Regions from separate parts of the Homo sapiens genome. Here region 1 is linked to region 2. The links come from fine-mapping of genetic effects on gene expression. A gene starts in region 2. The other region holds a variant in brackets. All regions are shown on one strand. Distances are from middle to middle.

Region 1 (10,143 bases), 95 kb after region 2:
CAGCTTGACAGTTCACTTTTCTCATTCTTTGAAGATGTGCTAGGCCTGGCATGGTGGCTCACGGCTATAATCCCAGCACCTTGGGAAGCCAAGCCGAGTAGATCACCTGAGGTCGGGAGTTCGAGACCAGCCTGACCAACATGGATAAACCCCTGTCTCTACCAAAAATACAAAAAATTAGCCAGGCGTGATGGCACATGCTTGTAATCCCAGCTACTCAGGAGGCTGAGGCAGAAGAATCACTTCAGCCCGGGAGGCAGAGGTTGCAGTGAGCCGAGATGGTGCCATTGCACTCCAGCCTGGGCAACAAGAGTGAAACTCTGTCTCAAAAAAAAAAAACAAAGGAAAAGATGTGCTTCCACTTTTCTCTGACTCTCATTGTTGATGAAGAGTAGTCAGCTGTATTTCTTTATCATCACCTCTTTCAGGATCGGTTCACCGTTAACAGCCTGCAATTGTATACAGTTCACTAAGTGTGCATCCTCGTTGGCATTCCTACATCCGAGAATTCTTACCTTTCAACATTTTTGAAAAATCCCCAGCCATTTTGTTTTTGAATGTTGCCTTTCCCCATTCCCTCTGCTCTCCTTTCTGGAACTCTGATTAGATTTATATTAGATTCTCTTCTCTACTCTGTACTTCTTAGCTTCTCTTTCAGATTTTCTATCTCCTTATCTCTCTGCACTCCTAATGGGTCATTTCTTCTGATCTACTTTCTGGTCAATAAATTCCCTCTTTACCAGTGTGTTATCTGTTGCTTAATCTGCGGTGAATATTTTTTATGGCATTTTTCATTTCTAAAGTTGAAAACGCACATTCTGATGATGGTGGTGATGGTGACAATAGTGTGTGATAATGATGATGATAGTGACGATCATGGTAATGATGAAAATAATCAGTACAACTATCAAAGATTGGCCAGGCACGGTGGCTCACACCTATAATCCCAGCACTCTGGGAGGCCGGGTGTGGTGGCTCACACCTGTAATCCCAGCACTTTGGGAGGCCAAGGCAGACAGATCACAAGGTCAGGAGTTCGAGACCAGCCTGGCCAATACGTGAAACTCCGTCTCTACTAAAAATACAAAAATCAGTCAGGCATGGTGGCTGGCGCCTGTAGTACCAGCTGCTCGGGAGGCTGAGGTAGGAGAGTCACTTGAACCTGGGAGGCAGAGGTTGCAATGAGCCAAGAAGCCAAGATCGCACCACTGCACTCCAGCCTGGACGCCAGAGCAAGACTCCGTCTCAAAAAAAAAAAAAAAAAGAAAAAAAAAAGCACTACCAAAGATCATCATTGTTGGCTGCACTTGTGGTTTCAGGCAGGTAGCCTTGGCGAGTTTGTTCATACCTCATGATCATTGGAGCTGAGATTTGCAAACTGCTCAGTGCAGCCCTGACTCCCTGTGAGTCAAAAGCCACTTCTCACCTCACCAGGAGCTGTGGTGTTTGTTGGGTGTCAATGTACGACTTTAGTTGTTGTTGTTTTAAAGTTCTACTGTGTGTTTTTTTAAAGGACCAGTGAAATTTGAAAATAGCCAAGGAAAAGAAAACTGGTTCCCACAATCACAGACACCACCATGGAACACACCAAGGCAATTTCTTCATTATAAAAATTTTATTATGAAGAGACAGGGGCCGGACGGGGTGGCTCACGCCTGTAATCCCAGTACTTTGGGAGGCCAAGATGGGTGGATCAAGAGGTCAGGAGATTGAGACCATCCTGGCTAACACGGTGAAACACCATCTCTACTAAAAAAATACAAAAAATTAGCCAGGCGTGGTGGTGGGCGCCTGTAGTCCCAGCTATTCGGGAGGCTGAGGCAGGAGAATGGCGTGAACCCGGGAAGCGGAGATTGTGGTGAGCGGAGATCGCGCCACTGACTCCAGCCTGGGTGACAGAGCGAGACTCTGTCTCAAAAATAAATAAATAAATAGATAAAATAAGAGACAGGGTCTCACTATATTGCCCAGGCTGGTCTGTGAACCGCTGTGCTCGATTGGTCCTCCTGCCTCAGCCTCCCAAAGTGCTTGGATCACAGGCATGAGTCGCCGCACCTGGCCAACACGGGGGCAGTTTTTGATGCAATGTCTGCAGTGGCTGGAGGGAGCTGGGCTCCTGCTCACATCATGCTTTGTGCTTCGGTTGCTCCCACTTCAGGGCTGCACTCACCCTCCCTCAGCAAACCTCAGACTTGGAAGAGGCTACCATGAGGGTGTGTGGCTTGGTTTAGACCTTGTTGACAAAGAAGTCAGTTAATCCCAAGTTCAGTAACTAATAAACATCAGCACATGGTAACACACAGTCTAACTACTAGTTTTTTTGTTTTTTTTTGTTTTTGGGTTTTTTTTTGAGACGGAGTCTTGCTCTGTCGCCCAGGCTGGAGTGCAGTGGCTCCATCTTGGCTCACTGCAACCTCCGCCTCCCAGGTTCAAGCGATTCTCCAGCCTCAGCCTCCTGAGTAGCTGGGATTATGGGCCTGGGCCACCACGTCTGGCTCTGTGAGTCAGCACAGGGAATCTTACCATGGACGCTGCCGGGAGATGCAGGGCCACTCAGGTGTGCACGTACACTGGATTCAAATACAGGCAGCAGACATAGACAACGATGCCGGGAGAGGGGCGGCTGGCAGAAGAATGGCCCCAAAGATGCCTGTGTTTTCATCCCCAGGGGGAGCCTGTGAAGGCGCAGCCTCATGCAGCAGAGGGGAGTTAAGGCTGCAGGGGAAGTTGAGGTTGCTCATCAGCTGACCCAAGATACAGAGATTACCCTGGATCATCCTGGTGGGCACAGCATAATCACAAAGTTCTTATCAGTGGAAGAGGGGTCAGGAAGAATACCAGAGAGGTGGGATGGGAGGACTCAATGGGCTTTGAAGATGGGGGGGGTGCCATGAGCCAAGGAACGGGGAGGCTTCCAGAATAAGCAGCTGGTTCTCCTCAGGAGCTCCCAGCTGGGGCCAGCCCTGCTCACGCCTGGACCTCAGCCAGTGAGACCCGCTTCAGTGAGCCCCACTGGCTCCTGAAGGCTGCTGCACCTGACTCAGGATAGCTGGGACTTGGAGTAGGGTGGGACACAGGGCACAGAGGGCCGGCCAGGGCTGCAAAAAGATCCCGGTGGCACCTCATGAGCTGGGGACAGGGGTCCTGTGCCCGACCATCTTGCGTCTCTTTTTGTTTCTACCTTTGCAATAATAATAATACAAGTAAAGTCAGATAGAAGTTCAGGAAGCATGCACATGGGATGCTCCAGTCTCCAGCCAGCACGAGGAAATCATCACTCTCCAATCAAAGGCAGAGGGCGAACAATGGCGCCATCACGGTGCACTGCAGCCTCAACCTCCTGAGCTCAAGGGGTCCTCCCACCTCAGCCTCCTAGGTGCTGAGGACCACAGGCGTGCAGCACCATTCCCAGCTATTTTTTTTTACTTTTTGTAGAGATGGCATCTCACTATGTTGCCCAGTCTGGTATCCACCTCCTTACTTAAGCAATCTTCCTTCCTCAGCCTCTCAAAGTGCTGGGATTACAGGCATAAGCCACCGCACCCAGGCCCGAGGTTGAGCTTTTGAGTGGCTGTCACCCTACTTTCCACAACAGTCACACCGATTGCTGTTCCCATCAGCAGTGCATGCCAGGCCTCCACATCCCACCAACACATGCTGCAGCACTGTCTGACTTCAGCATCTGAATGCATGAGAAGCGGAGTCTCACTGGGGCTGTAATCTGCATTCTCCAGTGACCGGCAGTGCCACGCAGCATCCCCCTGCTCACTGGCCACTGTATGTCTATGGAGAAACATCTGTCCAGACCCATCGCCCATCTCTGCACCTTTCTGCTCATTTCTAAGGTGAGAAAACAGAGGGTGGACAAGGTGAGGGAAGAGAGGGTGGAGAAGGCGAGGGGACAGAGGGTGGGGAAGGTGAGGGGACAGAGGGTGGAGAAGGTGAGGGGACAGAGGGTGGAGAAGGTGAGGGGACAGAGGGTGGGGAAGGTGAGGGGACAGAGGGTGGAGAAGGTGAGGGGACAGAGGGTGGGGAAGGTGAGGGGACAGAGGGTGGAGAAGGTGAGGGGACAGAGGGTGGAGAAGGTGAGGGGACAGAGGGTGGGGAAGGCGAGGGGACAGAGGGTGGGGAAGGCGAGGGGACAGAGGGTGGGGAAGGCGAGGGGACAGAGGGTGGGGAAGGCGAGGGGACAGAGGGTGGGGAAGGCGAGGGGACAGAGGGTGGGGAAGGCGAGGGGACAGAGGGTGGGGAAGGCGAGGGGACAGAGGGTGGGGAAGGCGAGGGGACAGAGGGTGGGGAAGGCGAGGGGACAGAGGGTGGGGAAGGCGAGGAGAGGGTGGGGAAGGCGAGGGGACAGAGGGTGGGGAAGGCGAGGGGACAGAGGGTGGGGAAGGCGAGGGGACAGAGGGTGGGGAAGGTGACCGGACAGAGGGTGGGGAAGGTGCGGGGACAGAGGGTGGGGAAGGTGCGGGGACAGAGGGTGGGGAAGGTGAGGAGACAGAGGGTGGGGAAGGTGCGGGGACAGAGGGTGGGGAAGGTGACTGGACAGAGGGTGGGGAAGGTGACGGGACAGAGGGTGGGGAAGGCGAGGGGACAGAGGGTGGGGAAGGTGACCGGACAGAGGGTGGGGAAGGCGAGGGGACAGAGGGTGGGGAAGGCGAGGGGACAGAGGGTGGGGAAGGCGAGGGGACAGAGGGTGGGGAAGGCGAGGGGACAGAGGGTGGGGAAGGCGAGGGGACAGAGGGTGGGGAAGGCGAGGGGACAGAGGGTGGGGAAGGCGAGGGGACAGAGGGTGGGGAAGGCGACGGGACAGAGGGTGGGGAAGGCGACGGGACAGAGGGTGGGGAAGGTGAGGGGACAGAGGGTGGGGAAGGTGAGGGAACAGAGGGTGACAACCATCCAAGTGTGAAACTCATGGGTATGTGCTTGGGCTGCAGACACCCTGGCCTCACCCCACCTTGGCCCTTTTGATCCATGAGACTGCACAGTTCCCCTCCTGGACCCTTGGTTCCCCCCACACCCAGGAGGCATAGAACAGGCAGGACATCCTGTGGCCAGAAAGATGATCGGGGGTCTCCAGGGCACGGAGCCCCCACCCACACACTACAGTAGGGATTGACAGCAGCCTGACCGCCACTGCCCTTTCCCCTGTAAGGTGGGGTTCCCAGTGGATGGCCAGAGGGTCCCACCCCAGTGGCTCCA[A/T]TCCCCACCCTCCACGTCAGCACCAGCCAGGTGGTCACCGTCAATGACCCTGTCACCCTCCCGGGGGAAGGGGCTTCCAGGCCCACAGCCCTGGCAGGTTCATGTGGGGCACTGGCCCTCTTCCTGCCCCACCCACCAGCCCTGTGGTCTGGGCGCCTGGCTCACACCTCCCTTCCTCCCACACGCACCAGCCACAGGCTCCAGGGTCTCAGAGGAACTCCTGGGACATCCCTTTATCTGGCACCAAAGCCCGGGGCAGGGCCTGCATGTTGACCGACTGCCTTCTCTGCTCTGGCTGGGCTGAATAGCTGGGCCCAGCTCCCTCCCGGGGACTCTTCCCCCAGCCAGGGTTCACCTGAAGGCACCAGTGAGGCAGCGCCACCCCGAACAGGGGTCCCCAGACTTTGGAAAAATCACAAACCAGAAAACTGTCGACAATCACTTCCGGGTTAGCATAGGACTCTAACCTTATGTTTTTTCCAGATACTGACATTAATTTTTTTAACTATTGCTCAATAGTCTCAATATCTCATAAAAGCACCTTTTAGCACCAAATACAGTAGGATAGCACAATCTCTGCACAAAAAGCCTTTTACACGAAAGTATTATTTTTTTTAATAGAGACGAGTTCTCCCTATGTTGCCCAAGCTGCTCTCAAACTCCTGGGCTCAAGCGATCCACCTGCCTTGGCCTCCCGAAGTGCTGGGATTACAGGCGTGAGCCACCGCGCCCGGCCCACATGAATGATTTATTCCACTTGGCGCTCCTTTTCCTCGTTTCACTGTACATCGATGAAGACATTGGCACCAACGCACAGGTCCATGGATCAGAGTTGAGGAAAGTCTGTTCCAATCTTAACCCTTTTGGTGCTGGCTTTGTTTTACTGAAGACGAAACAGAGGGTCCAAGTGGTTACATCCCGAGCGCCGGCAGTGGCTGCACGAGGCAGGACTGCCTCCAGCTCTAACTGTACTGCACCTGCACCCACCAGCCAGGGTCCGCCGCTTTCAGCCGGAATCCATAGACAATTCACACGGCAAAGAGAGGAGACCAAGCTTGGGTTTCAAAATGAGCTGAAATATCAAAGCAGAATAAAGTCACTTCTTTAAACGTGGGGCCATTTCAGAGTTAATTTCACAAAAGGAGACATCGTGTTGCTTCAAACTGCTGTGCAAACATCAGAGTGACTCGTTATCTAAGTCTCAGTCAGAAACACTGGCAGTCACTTCTGATCTGCGTTAGATTGTAAGTCATTTGTTCTCCTCTAAATAGCAACAAGAGGCCGGGCATGGTGGTTCATGCCTGTAATCCCAACACTTTGGGAGGCCGAGGCAGGTGGATCACAAGGTCAAGAGATCAAGACCATGCTGGCCAACATGGTGAAGCCCTGTCTCTACTAAAAATACAAAAATTAGCCGGGTGTGGTGATGCGCACCCATAATACCAGCTACACGGGAAGCTGAGGCAGAAGAATCACTTAAACCTGGGAGGCAGAGGTTGCAGTGAACCGAGATCACGCCACTGCACTCCAGCCTGGGGACAGAGCGAAACTCCATCTCAAAAAAAAAAGAAAAAAAGAAAAGAAACTCTGAAGTCAGTCTGAAGCCTGGGAGGGACAAAGGTGTTTTGCAGGTTCCTGCAGCTCAGGCACCCAGCGGGGGCTCACTTGAGAGGGTTAAGAGGGTGAGTGCCTGGGAGGAGCCTTCAATCAAAACTTAGCTGTAGCTGAGTCCAACTGTGTGGTACCTCCCCAGCACAGCCCTCTGACCTGGGAACAGGCCCAGAGAACACAGAGGGAGTGAAGGTTGGTTATCTCCCCCTGAGGTCTGCGCTCCTACCCCTGGCTCCTGATCCGAGCCCTTGCTGTCAGAGAAGACAGGAACCTCACACTTCCTGAACACGCGCAATGCCCCTACCAAAACACGGGAGCTGCAGGCGGGCCTTTGGTCTTCTTCTGCTCCGTGCCCATTGCCATCTTCCAGAAGACACACATCATGCCTGTTCTCTCCTTCCACGCCAGGCCAGGGGAGAGGGTGGCCCCCACCCCAACCCCAACTCTGCTCCAACCGAAGGAGCCTCCTCCTGTGTGCACCCCCGTCCCCAGCACGGCGCAGCTCTACCACCAAACAGACAAAGCACAGCCAGCTCTGATTGACCCAGGGAGGCCGGGGACCTTGCCCTCTGGAGCAGCCCACATGGCCCACGGATGGCGCAGTGGCCCCCACACAGAAGGCTGCCCTTGGGCTCCTTTCCGGAGCGGCATGGCCCGGAGGAAGTGGCCAGGTAGCAAGGCCAGGCTACAGTGAGGCTGGCGGAAAGAAGAGGAAATGGGCGTGGACACCATCTGCCGGACTCAGAGCCCTGGGGACTCAGGCAGTCTGACAGCAACCTTGGCCCATGAAAACACGGAGCCTAAGGGGCTCCCGGGAGAGGACAGTCCAGGCTCCGAGCCCAGCTCAGATGAGAGGCTGCCCGGATAATGACCTTCAGAGGGCTCTGCTCATCATTACATGAAATTATGCAAATGAGACTTTATGTATTTATTTAAGAGTCTCTGTTGCCCAGGTTGGAGTGCAGTGGTGTGATCTGGGCTCATTGCAATCTCCACCTCCCAGGTTCAAGTAATTCTCATGCCTCAGCCTCCCAAGTAGATGGGATTACAGGCGTGAGCCACCGTGCCTGGCCAAGACTCTTTTAAAATGCGAATTCAGGCCAGGCGAGGTGGCTCAGGCCTGTAACCCCAGCACTTTGGGAGGCCGAGGCAGGTGGATCACCTGAGGTCAGGAGTTCAAGACCAGCCTGGCCAACAGGGTGAAACCCCGTCTCTACTAAAAATACAAAAATTAGCTGGGTGTGGTGGTGTGGGCCTATAATCCCAGCTACTTGGGAGGCTGAGGCAGGAGAATTGCTTGGACCCAGGAGGTGGAGGTTGCCGTGAGCTGAGATCACGCCACTGCACTCCAGCTTAGGCAACAGAGCGAGACTCCGTCTCAAAAAACAAAAAACAACAACAAAAAAAAACCCACCCCATTAGCAGCCGCCTGCCTCTCCCCCTCCCCAGCCCAGACACCCCCAGTCCTTACCCCTGCTGTGGCTTTGCCTGTTGTGTGCATTCTGGAGACACAGAGGCACACGCATGTAGCCTCTCGTGACCGGCATCTTTCACTCTGCAGAAGGGTCTCAAGGTTCGTCCCAATGTAGCCTGTGTCAGCGTTCCACTCCTTTTTATGGCTGAAGAATTTTCCAGGCACAGATGGACCCCATTTCGTTTTTCCATTCACTCATCAATGAGCACCTGGTCTTGTCACATTTTTATTTTTCATTTACTTATTTATTTACTTTTTGAGACAGGGCCTCACCCTGTCACCCTGGAGTGAGGGTGGAGTGCAGTGGTGTGATCTCAGCTCACTACCACCTCAAATTCCTGGGCCCAAGTCATCCTCCCGCCTCAGCCTCCCGAGTACTTGGGACTACAGGTGTGCACCACCACACCCGGCTAATTGCTCTGTCGCCCAGGCTGGAGTGCAGTGGTGCAATCTCGGCTAACTGCAACTTCCGCCTCCTGGGTTCAAGCGATTCTCCTGCCTCAGCCTCCTGAGTAGCTGGGATTACAGGCGTGCACCACCATACGTGGGTAATTTTTGTTTTTGTTTTTGTTTTAGTAGAGATGTGTTTTCACTATGTTGGTCAGGCTGGTCTTGGACTTCTAACCTCAAGCAATCCACCTGCCTTAGCCTCCCAAATTGCTGGGATTATAGGCATGAGCCACCACACCAGGCCTGATTTTTTTTATTTATATTTTTTGCAGAGATGGGGGCCTCACTGTGTGCCCAGGCTGGTCTTGGACTGGCTTCAGGCAATACTCCCACCTCAGCCTCCCAAAGTGCTGTGTTTACAGGTGTGAGCCATTGCCCAGCCTCATCACATTTTTTAATGTGCTCATTGGCTGCCGACAGGTGCCAGCTCTGGACTGGGTTTGGTAGAACTGAACCCCGGGCTCAAGCCCAGCTCCTTCCGCTCCTGGCTGAGCTCCTCCTTCTCAGGGCTTCATGTCATTGTTCCTGAAATGAAGGCTGAAAAAGCCCTCTGCCTCCCACAGGGACACAACCTTGTCCAGGGGCTCCACCGCTGGGAAGCCTGGCCTCGCTGATCCTCCGGGTCTGTCTTCCCCGGCAACACACTTGTCCCTGGTCACGCCTGCCTGCCACAGGCTCTGTGGCTCCCAGCCCCACACTCCTGAGCCCTCTGGAAGACACACTGCCCCACACATGACCTTCCACACCCACTGGGCCCACAGGGCCCTGCTCCTCCTGACGCATGCCTCCAGCTGTGGGCTGTTCCAAGTGGCGGGAATGCCCTTCCCGTACTCCTCCATGTCCAAATCCTTCTCGGCACGGAGGGGCTGGGGCAATCTTCCTCTGAAACCCCCTCATTTAGAGGCTGTTTTAGGTTGAGCCGTGTCCCTAGCCCCAGGACCTGTGGATGTGGAACCAGGGTCTTTGCAGAGGTAATGAAGGTAAGATGAAGGGTCACAGCTCTGGGCTGCTGCGGCTTATGTCCTGATAAGGAGAAGGAGACAGAGACACAGAGGAGGGGCTGTATGAAAACGGACAGCGAGAAAGCCACCAGCCAGGAGCTGGAGAGGCAGGAAGGGGCCTCCCTGAGCCCTGCAGGGAGGGCAGCCCTGAGACCTCTTGGTTTCAGATTTGTGGCCTCCAGAGCTTTGAGAGAGTAAATTTCTGTTGTTTTAAGCCTCCCACCTCCCGGCTGGTGGTCACGTGTGACGGGGCAAAAACCGAGCCCCGGACCTCACAGGGGTAGAAACCGAGCCCCAGGCCTCAAGGCTTTGCACCTGGGTTCTTGCTATTTAAGTGCACGCTGCACCTCTGACAGCAGCGGGGAGGCTCCTCCAAGACACAGCTGCGTGGCGGCTCTTTCTCCC
Region 2 (10,143 bases):
GAAAAGGTCACTCCCGGCTGATATCCAAGGACAGTCTCCAGGCAAGAGCCTGGCCATTGGCTCTTGGAGGGCAAAGCTTGTGAGACCCACAGGAGAGGGGCTTATCCAGCGTGCTCCCAGGCCAAGCCCGCTTTCTGCTGTCCCCGGATGTCTGATAGATCAGATGGGTCCCGGCTGAGGGTGGGACTGCCTGAGCCCCGTCTCCAAAGCCAGAGCCAGCCCCAGTGACAACAGGGCCACAGCAGCAGCAGCCCCTGCCCAGGGTGGCCCAGGCAGCATCCCAGAGCCAGCCAGACCACCCCCCATGGCGAGTGGCCTCCCGATTCCTAACTTAATTTATTTTGACATCTCCGCTGCCGCCTGACCTCCTTATGGAGTCATGTGGTATTTAAAACTCATTATCCCCCCCATTGAAACAGGAAGTTAATTAAACCCTTCACAGAGCCAGCTTTGACAAATGTCAGAATGGGCCCCTGGCACGGCTGCCCGGCGGCGCCAAGGCCTGGGGATGACTGGCAGTGGGGGAAGTGAGGCCCTGCCCGGGCGGGGACCACGGGAGAGGTCCTGGGGTCCCTTCCCCTCACTCAGCCACCCCTGTGCGTTTCAGAGCATGCGCGTCCCCGAGAGAGTCCTGCCCTGCGCTTCCCTGCTTTGCTGCTTCAGGCGAGTGACTTCCCCTCTCTGAACCTCTGTTTACAAATCTGGCAAATGGGAATTCTGACAGCTCCTTCTGCAGAGAGCTGCTGTGAGCAGAGTGTGCCGACATATGCAAATGTGCAGCCTGGCTCGGAAGGGCCCTCCGCAGTGTCTGCTGTGGCTGCTGCTGTAGGAGGGCAGCGCTGACTGCGGAAGAGGAGACAGCTGGGCCTGCCCTGCACTCTGGGACAGAGAGACCTGAGCCTGCCTGGGGCACTCAGTGGATTCCCTCAGGAGGGGTGGGCAGACCAGGCCAGGCAACGGAGGGAAGGGTGCACCCAGCAGCCCAATAGCTTGTGCCAAGGGGGACCGCTGGACCCACATACAGGGAGGCTCCAGGATGAAGGAAGGGCAGAGCCTGAGGCTACGACACATGGCTCTTAGGAGGCCCCGCTGGCTTCACCCTTCCATCAGGGACCAGCCAGGGTGGGGGAGAGTGGGCAAGATGAGGCTGATGAAGGTTTGGAGCAGGGTGGGAGGGGCCTCTCAGAGCCATAAGGAAGTGAAGTCACAGATCCTGGTGACAGGCCAGCTGTGGGGAGTGGTGGGAAGCAGACAGAGGAGTTGGGTGCAGCCTGGTTCCGAGGCCCTCACGTGGCCTGACCTCCAGGTGCACCAGCCCTGCAGCCACTGCGGTCCCTGGTCCACCCACCCCGGCCTCCAGCTTCTGCCCCTGCACCCTCTCCGCCAGAAATGCCCTTCTCTCTCCCATCACTCTTTTTTGATCATCCTCTTCATCCTCATCCTTCAAGGTCCAGCTTAAGTTCCTAGAACATTCTGTGGCTCCTTGAGTCACAGCTCAACAGTCGGCCTGGCACATAGGTGGTGCCACAATTAGCCCCTCACCCATCCACAGCTGCTGCCCAGCCCCGGGTGGCCTTCCTGAGCTCTCCCCGGGAGACTGCCGAAGAGGAGACAGGTGGGCCTGCCCTGCACGCTGGGGCAGCTCGGCACTGGCCCGTCAGAGGAGCCAGGTCCATGGCCGGTAGCCCACAGGTAGGAGGGAAAGTGGCAGAGCCAAGACTCGAACCCAGTTTTCCCAACGTCCCATTCAGGGTGAAGAACATGCGCTCTGGAGTGAGAGTTCCTGGGCTCCCTCCCAGCTCCAGCACTTCCAAGACGTAGGACCCCTGAAAAGCAACTGGTCCGCTCCAAGCCTCAGTTTCTGCATCTGTAATATGGTGGTAACTTGAGCCCCCACCCCAGCCAGTTGTGCAAAGGTGGCACGGACCTGGCACAGCCTGGAAGCACAAAGTCAGTGCTGTGCTGGTGATGCTGACACAGGTCCCGGAAAGGGGAGAGGAGGCTGGGGAGCTGGGAGAGGAGGCCATCTCAGAGTGCCTCCTCCCTTACCTCCAAATGTACAGGGTCGGCAACGCACAGGAGAACCTCCCCTGAAACCGACCCAGCATCAGGGGCAGGGCTGAGGCAGAGTAGAAGCATAGTAAGGCATTTGCCCCATCACACCCCTCTACTCCTAATAGAAGGCTGGAATTCCATGTCCACTGGCCCAGCCCACCCCTGCACACCCCCACTTCTCAAACCCCAAAAATGTCTTCTTTGGGCTGAGGTTGTTTTTGGAGGGGAGGCAGTCTCCAGGCCACTGCCAGACAGCACTTCCTATGTGTTCCAGGCCCTGCTCTCCCTGGGAGCCAGCAGGGGAGAACCCAGTGCAGCTCCTGAATGCAATTCCAACTTCCCCACCAGTGACTTTGGATGTGAATCTCAACACACCTCGAGAACATGCAGGGGCAGATGGAAACTGGGGTTCACAATGGGCAGCAGGTGGGGGGTGGAGGTCCTAGGTGGGCTCAGCCTGGACAGCCTCAGCAACCCCACGCCCTGTTCCTCTCCCACCTGATCAGGGACTCCTGGAAAGCCCCACTTGGATGTCACCTTCTCCAGAAAGCCTTCTCTGATTTCCCCAGGCAGAGATGGCCGCTCCTGCTCTGGGCTCCCCCAGACCATCCTCTAGACAGCATGCCTTGTGTCTCTTCCTCAGTGTATGGTTATCGTCATGACCACCCTGAGGGTTTAATGGTGTGTGCAAGGTCCTGCAGCTTTACCACTCGACATCAGCAGGCAGCCTCCCCTCTTGGCTGCGGTTTTCTCATCTGTAATAATGCCTTCCTCCGGGCAGGTAGAGGGACAGAGTGTAGAAGGAATGTGCTACAAAAGCAGCCCTGGCAGGGTTAGGGGACCTGTGACCGGTGCAGGGGCACAGGGCCCGAGCTGGGAAGGGCACCACACCGGGCTCAACATCCTGCCCTTGATGCCCTGGGGTTTTGGGGTTTGGGGGTTTTGATCAAGGGGGCTCCACATTTTCATATTTTCATTTTGCATGGGGCCTTGCAAGTGATGGAGGCAGGGCAGCAGGCTGTGGTCTGGACCTGCCGCCTGCCCCCTTCGCTGGCTTCCCTGGGCATGTCCCTCCATGTTTTCATCTATATATGGGCTCATAGAAATAAATCAGATCAGGCAAAGCAGCAGCCAAAATGATCCCCATCGTCTCCTCCTGCAGCCTAGACAGACATCAATCATGGATGATCATGGCTGTCTCCTGTTGACCCTCGGAATCCACCTCAACACAGATCTCCGCCCGTTCCAGCAGCGCCAGCCTGGGTGCCACTTGCTGTGCGTGGAGCTTCAGACCCAGCCCAGGTGCCAGCCCATGGCCACCTCCTCCAGGAACTCCCCTAACTCACAGGTCCACATACTCTAAAGTGGACTTCTTTGGGGAAGGAGGCGAGGCCTGGTGGGAAACCCAGACAGGTAGGTGCTCCATCCAGTTGACAAGCACTGGGTGGGGGCGGGAGGGTGGGGGGGAGGTCCTAGGTTGAGTGAACCAATCAGACATGGGCCCCACCCCCTCCAGAGAGCAGCTGTGGGAAGGCTGTGCCCACTGGACCCTGGCAGAGAGCAGGAAGGGCTGGAGGACCCGTATGCCCCTGGGCAGCTCTCTTGGCCTCCTGGTCTCAGTGTTCCTGTCTGTCCATGGCAGTGGGGAGGGACGGCGCATATCCAGTGTTGTACCCCTGCCTCTCCTACCCACCCGCCACTCTCCTGTACCAGGCTCTGAGGGTAAGCCCCCACTTCTCCCCTTCCTTGGAGCCAGGGAATAGGTCACAGAAGTTGGCACGAGATGGGGTCTTAGGAGCTCCCAGCAGGCTGGCGGGTGGTGTGACAGTCCTGCTGTGCGATGATCTCATCATCAGGTGGGAGGGGTCCTTCCTGTCTGCCCCTGGGCCCACTGACGCCCGTTTCTTATGAGTACGGGGGATGGGGGAGCAGGTAGCAAGTGTAGACCGAGAACATTAAAAGGAGATGATACAACTCAGCTGGGAGTGGGGGACAGCCCCCCAATGCGTGACCTTGAGCAAGTCCCCGAGCCTCCGTGAAGTGGGGCTCTTGAACACACCCCAGAGGGCAACAGTTCTCCATTTCCAGGCCTGAGCTGACAGCACCGCGCCCACAAACCTCGCTGACCTCTGACTGCTCCGAGAGGGGGCTGTGGCCCGGGCGCTGTGGGCAACTCCTTCGTGGGTCTCCTGCGGGGCGCCCTGGAGAGGCTCGGTGAGGAAAGAGGCCCCAAGTGGCAACGCCCAGGGCTGCCGGCTCCCGCGCCCCCTCCTCGATTTCCAGCCTGGTCTGAGCTCACAGGGGAAGACCCGAGATCCTGCTCTCAGTTGGCGGACCCCACCGCAGTCTGGGACGGAAGCCCCCTCCCTGGCCCGAATCCGCTCCACACCCCAAGTCTGGCCCAAGAGAAACGTGGGCGTCAAGGCCTCGGGCTTCCTGAGCCGGTTGTCACTGCCCCCACCGCGCACGTGGAGCGTGCGGCAGAGCCCAGGGGTCTAGGGAGGGACCAAGGGCTGGGGGCGGAGTTACAGTGCGGGGGCGGAGCCTCGGCGTCTCAGGACCCAACCAGGTCGGGTCAGGTTTGGAGGCGGAGCTGGCGCCGAGAGGCGGGGCGCAGGATGCGGTGCCGCGGGGCAGCAGAACAGAACCGAATAGGTCTCAGACTCCCAGCGCGGCCTGGGGACATGACCTCCGGGCCAAAGAGGAGTGGGGGAGGCTAGAGGTCTCCCCGGGGCGCGGGCGGGGCCGAACCAGGAAGGGGCGGGGCATCGAGCGGGGCGGGGACAGTGCCTTGAAGGCCCAGACGGACAGGGGCGGGGCCGCAGCGCTGGGGTCGGAGCCAGCGCCGTAAAGAGCGAGGCGGGCGGGGGCGCGGTCGCGGCTCTGGGGGCGGAGCCAGAGCAACGAAGAGCCGGGCTGGCGGGGGCGTGGCCGCGGCGCTGGGGGCGGAGCCGGAGAGGTGCAGGGCCCGGCAGGAGGCACGGGGCGGGGCCGGAGCGCCGGGGGCGGGGCGGGAGGTGCGGCGGCCGACGACGCTCAGGCCCGGCCCCGCCCCGTGCCTCCAGCCCGCCAGGAGCGCCCTCGCAGTGGCCGCCTGCTCCGCCGCTCGCCGCCCGCGGGTTCCATTGAGAAAAGCCGAGCGGCCGCGGCGGCGGCGGCGAGTGCGCGGGAGCGGAGGAGCCGGCACCCGCCCGTCGGGCAGTCCGCGCGCCCGCAACGCAGGACCGTGGCCTCTCGGGCCTCCGCGGCAGCTCCAGCGGCTCCGGGGCTGGGCGCGCGGGCTGGGGGCGCGGGCCGGGGCGGCCGCGGAGACCGGGGGCCGGGGGCATGAGCGGCCCCGCGGCCCCGCCGCGCCCCCGCCGCCCGCCGCCGCCCGCCCGGGGCTAGAGGCGGCCGCCGGGAGGGCGCGCGGCGCCGGAGACATGTCCAGGCGGAAACAGAGCAACCCCCGGCAGATCAAGCGTGAGTCAAACTTTGCCCGCGGTCCCCTCCGCGCGCCCGACCCCCGCCGGAGCCCAGCCGCCAGCGCCGCCCCCGCCCGTCCCCGCTCTGCCCTGGGCGCCGGCGACCTTCACCCCGCGCCGCGCCCCCCGCGCTGTGCCAAGCGCGCCGTAATCTAATCTCCGCCGGCGGCCTGGGCCCCCGCGTCTCGGCTTGGGCACCGGGGGGTTCAGCCCAGGAGGGGGCCGCCCGGAGGCCGGGAGGAGGGTGTTTGGGGGCGCGGCCCGGGCAGCTCGGCCCCTCGCGGCCTGCCCCTCCCCCGCATCTGCGAGATGGTGCGGCGATAGGGCGGCCCCGATCTGGGCTCAGATAAAGTTTAAAATATTACATTCTGCAAGTCCCGTCCTGATAAGATCGTTCTGTCGGGACGGGCTGAAATTGTGATCTTATCTCGCGCGGTTGACTCTCCCAGGCTTTGTATCTAGAAGCGAAGAGAGAGACCTGGGAGGCAGAGGGGACACCCGGGGCCGCGGAGATGCCTGGCCAAGTGGCAGGCACCGGCCCGCGCCCACCCCCACCGGTGCCGTCGCAGAGCCGCAGGACAGGGGAGGGGGTAGCGCGCAGCTGCCGCAGCCTAGGCACTTGGCTCCAGCCCCCCAGACACCCCCACCCCGTGCCCTAGCGCTGAAGTCCTGAACCCAGGCCCCGCCAGCCTGGTGACACCTCCTGGACCCTGCAAGTGTCCCAGCCAAGGCGGCATGGGCAACAAATGGTGCCCTCGGATGCCCGCGGGCACCCCCTGGCATCCCAATGGGCTGCTCTGAGTCAGAGAAGGGCCTCCCAGGACGCAGCCCCGGGCCGGGGTCGCCCCTGCACGCCACTAAGTTTCTCGCTGGTCCGGCTCCCTGCCCGGTCAGAGGCTGCTGCCCCGCCGCCACATTGCCAGTGCCCCCGCGATGAGAACTAAGCTGTCGGGGCCACTGTCTGGCCTGGGCCTCTGGGCTGTGCCAGGAGGGAGCAAGAGCACAGGAAGCTACCCTCCCCACCCTATGCCAATAATAACTTTGCGCCTCACAGTTAGGGCCCAGACGCAGGTCTTCCTCCCCGGGGCGCCTCCCCGGAGCCTGACGGGCAGGTCGTCTGAGCCCTGCCAGGAGGCCACGACGGAAACCCGCCCGCTGCCCAGCCGTAGGCGCCCGGGCACTACCTCCTTTGTCCACACGACCACTGCCACCAGGACCCCTTGTGCGGGGCCTGTGGGAGCTTCCCTACTCAGGAGGTCTCCCGAGGCGGGGGTCACAGGCATGAACCGGTTCCCGTAACCCAACTCCCTCAGCGCAAACGGGACCTGTTTTCCGAAAGTCGCCTTCTATCGTGTCAACTCAAGTATTAAAAGCCACCCACAGGTCCCGATCCGCGCTTGTGCTCTGGTTTCTTTTTCCTTCCTTCCCTGAGCGCCTATGTTCGGTTCTGGGGTGTGTGTGTGTGTGTGTGTGTGTGTGTGTGTGTGTGTGTGGTGTTTCACTGTGATGAGAAATGCAGATAGCTCGGACAGGGAGATCGCAGGTTGGAAACCGATCTCCAGCGCTGATAAGGCCGCCAGCGCCAGCGAGAGCCCGTAGCCCAGCCCAGCGGGGCGGGCAGAGCGCGCGCACTTTGGGAACTGGGACCGCGGCGGGTGCACGGTGAGCCACCGCGGCCCATCCTCGTTGCGGCCCGGGACCGGGGCAGAGAAAGGGCCCGGACGAGGAAGGCAGGGCCGCGGACCCTCCCTGTCGCTCGCGGCCCGGGGCGCCTCCTCCCCATGGCAGATCTCAGCACGTTAAGATGCGAAGGCTGATTGTCACCAAGCGGCGGCGCCCGCCCGCCCGCCCTCTTGCCAGCGCCTGTGCCTGCCCGCTGCCCTGGCCTCACCTGCGGCCGGGCCGCGAGTGCAGAGCGGAGGGGGCCGAGCGCTTCGGGCCGCCCACCCCCCACCCGCGCCCCCATCAAAGCCCTGGCGCAGCTGCCCGCGCCTCTGTGCGCCTTTTGTTCCGTGCGGAGATAGATGTGCCGCGCTGATAAGGCGCGCAACCGATGGTGGCTGAGATAGGCGCTTCCATTTATTAACTTCAAACGTGGGAGCGGGGGCAGGGCGAGGCGGGAGCGCGGCCTTGGCCGGCCAGATGGCGGAGGCGATAGGCCGGGCTGCCGACGGGGAGCGCGGGGCCGGGGCAGCTCGGGACCCCCGGCGCCCCCAGCCCGCTGGGTTTTCCTCCCGCCCGAGTCGATGTGAGCTCCGATAAGAGCCTGGCCGGTCGGCCCGATGGCGATCGCCAAGAGCGATAAGAGGCCTTATCTTTGGCCACCAGGCCCGGCCGGGTTGGAGAACAGCGCGGGGGCGCCGCGACTGGGGCGAGTGGGGGCTTGGAACGGCCCGGGTTGGGGCCGGGGAGCCGGCGTCCCTGCGCTGGTCTGTCTGGGGGAGTTTTCTCCCCAAACACACTTAATTGCCAAGAAGTTGATCCTCCCCTGTGGCCGGTGGTACAGTCCGTCAAAATGAAAGAAAACTGGCTTTGCCCCGGCCAGGAGGGGGAAGGGGGAGGACACCCCGCCCCGAGTCCTCGTAGATGGTGCGAGACCGCTAGAGGTGGGTTTGTCACCTCCAGAGGGAGAGAGGGTGTTTTCCCCTTGAATCATGCTGGTGTTGCTGGTAGTTCCTAGCAAGAACCAAGTGTACACTGCTTGGAGTTTTCTTGAAAAAAAAAAAATCAAGGTGGTTTCCATGGCCCAGACTGCTTTGGGGGAGGCCAGTGTACCCTGGTGTGGAGGCGCTGCAGACCTGCCTGGGCTGAGCACTGTTTGCTGAGCACTACTGCATACAGGCCCTGGGTCCCAGTGGCAAACGAGAGGGGCAGAGGGGGCAGCCAAGGGGAGCAGGGGGCACGTCAGGTGGTCAGGGACACTTCTTGGAAGGGGGTGACCTTTGGCACAGTAGGGCTGGCCTCAGTTTTCCACTGCTGTCGGGGGAGCAAGGGCTGAGAGGCGCCTGGGGCTGGGGGGCCAGCCTGTGCCAGCAGGTGCGAGTGAGGTCGGGAGTGATGGAGTTGGTCAGGTCCTTGGTCTCCCACTCTGAAAAATGGAATCAGGAATAGGTCCCCAGGGCTGTGGGAGTCCCCAGGTCAGGCTGGAGATATTGAGGGTCCACCGAGGCACTTTGCAGTGGAAGGGCCCATGGATCCCACAGGCCAGATAGAACCCTAGGCCATCTGGGTAGGGCCTTCCGGAAGGAGCCGGGGAGGGAGGGTCCCTGAGCCCCTCCTATTCCAGCCCAGGCAGCTGCTGCAGCTCAGAACAAGGTGTTTTTCACACACTCTCAGAGTTTGATTAAACAAATTATTGGTAACCACAGGATGACTAATTCACTCCAAGCTTCAAAGTCACCCACCTGCTCTCCCCAGCAGCCCAACGCCCACCCGTGGGGCTGGCAGTGCCATCTGGCAAGGGCCATTTCCAGTTCCAGAGAGGGCTGGGTTGGGCCCAGAGGGAGATGGGGTGGTTTCTGTGATGTGTTATGAACATGAGTGGGATGTCAGCACAGAGCCATCCACACTGGCCTTCCATGCGTGGGAGGCACCCGGGTGTTGAGGCTGTCAGAGGCCACCTTACCATGCTCATGACCCAGAGTGGTGGCAGAGCATCCAGGAAAGAAGGGGCTTTGGCAGCCTGGCTGACCCTGGTGCTGAACCACAGGGGACAAGTTACTGTGCTTTCCACAGCTCTCAGTTTCCCCCTGTTGGAAACATGGATATGATAGTGTCTGCCATCCAGGGGCTGCAGGTCCTGCTCTCAGCTTACCTGGTCCTTGGCCCAGTTGCCTCGTCCCCAGTCACCATCCTGAGGGGAACGGTGCCTGCAGCCTGCTTGATGCTTAGGCTGCGAAGCCATCATTGTCATCTCAGAGTCCTGATCCCAGCCACGTTTTTCTCTCTTTCTCTCTCTTTTTTTTTTCCTTAGTTAAAATTTTTTTACAAAATAGACATGGAGTCTCACTACGTTGCCCAGGCTGGTCTTGAACTCCTGGGCACAAGCTATACTCCCAGCTCAGCCTCCCAAAGCACTGGGGTTCCAGACACGAGGCACCGCACCTGCCCTCAAGCCACATTTAGCAGAGGGAATTAGAGATCGGGAGGTACTCTCAAGGCCCCCCACCCCTAAACCTGGACTCCAGCAGGGTCTGGCGGACCCCGGAGTCCACGCCGTCACCCAGCTCTGGGCCGATTGTGGTTTACCCCCTTTCCTGGGCCTTAGGGAAGGCAGACAGCTCATGATCATTTGATGGTAAGAATAATATTCATAACAGCCAATGCTTAAGAGCCCTCTCTGTGCCAGGCTGTGTATTAACTTAAAGCAGGTCCTCTTCTGATCACTATTTTACATCTGGGGAAACTGAAGCACAGAGAAGTTTCTCGCCCAAGCAAGTGATGGAGCTAGAGTTGGAACCCAGGCGGCCGGGCCTGCGCTCCTTAAGGGTGTGTCCGTGAGCACCGCGCTGCCTTCTCTCCATCCTCCGGCTTCTGTCTGCCCTGCCACCCTGAGCCTCTCTCAGCCTCAGTCTCCACATCTGTGAAATGGGCCTTTGGGACCAGAGGCCCTCTGAGGTCTTTC

Evidence for each region.
Region 1: its variant is fine-mapped to the expression of ZFPM1 in whole blood (TOPMed, PIP above 0.99).

What each region holds. Positions count from the first base shown.
Region 1 is chr16:88,542,998-88,553,140 of GRCh38, forward strand. No RefSeq gene overlaps it. Among named protein-coding and RNA genes, the nearest start is that of ZC3H18-DT, 14 kb to the right of the region's middle. The variant A/T (reference allele first, on the strand shown) is at 5,203.
Region 2 is chr16:88,448,162-88,458,304 of GRCh38, forward strand. ZFPM1 (zinc finger protein, FOG family member 1) reads left to right here and starts at 5,119. Exons shown (of 10, transcript NM_153813.3): 1 at 5,119-5,517. The coding sequence starts at 5,478. RefSeq lists silencers at 4,844-5,143, 5,154-5,243, 5,704-5,833, 6,054-6,123, 7,064-7,773 and 1 more and enhancers at 8,114-8,163, 8,194-8,323.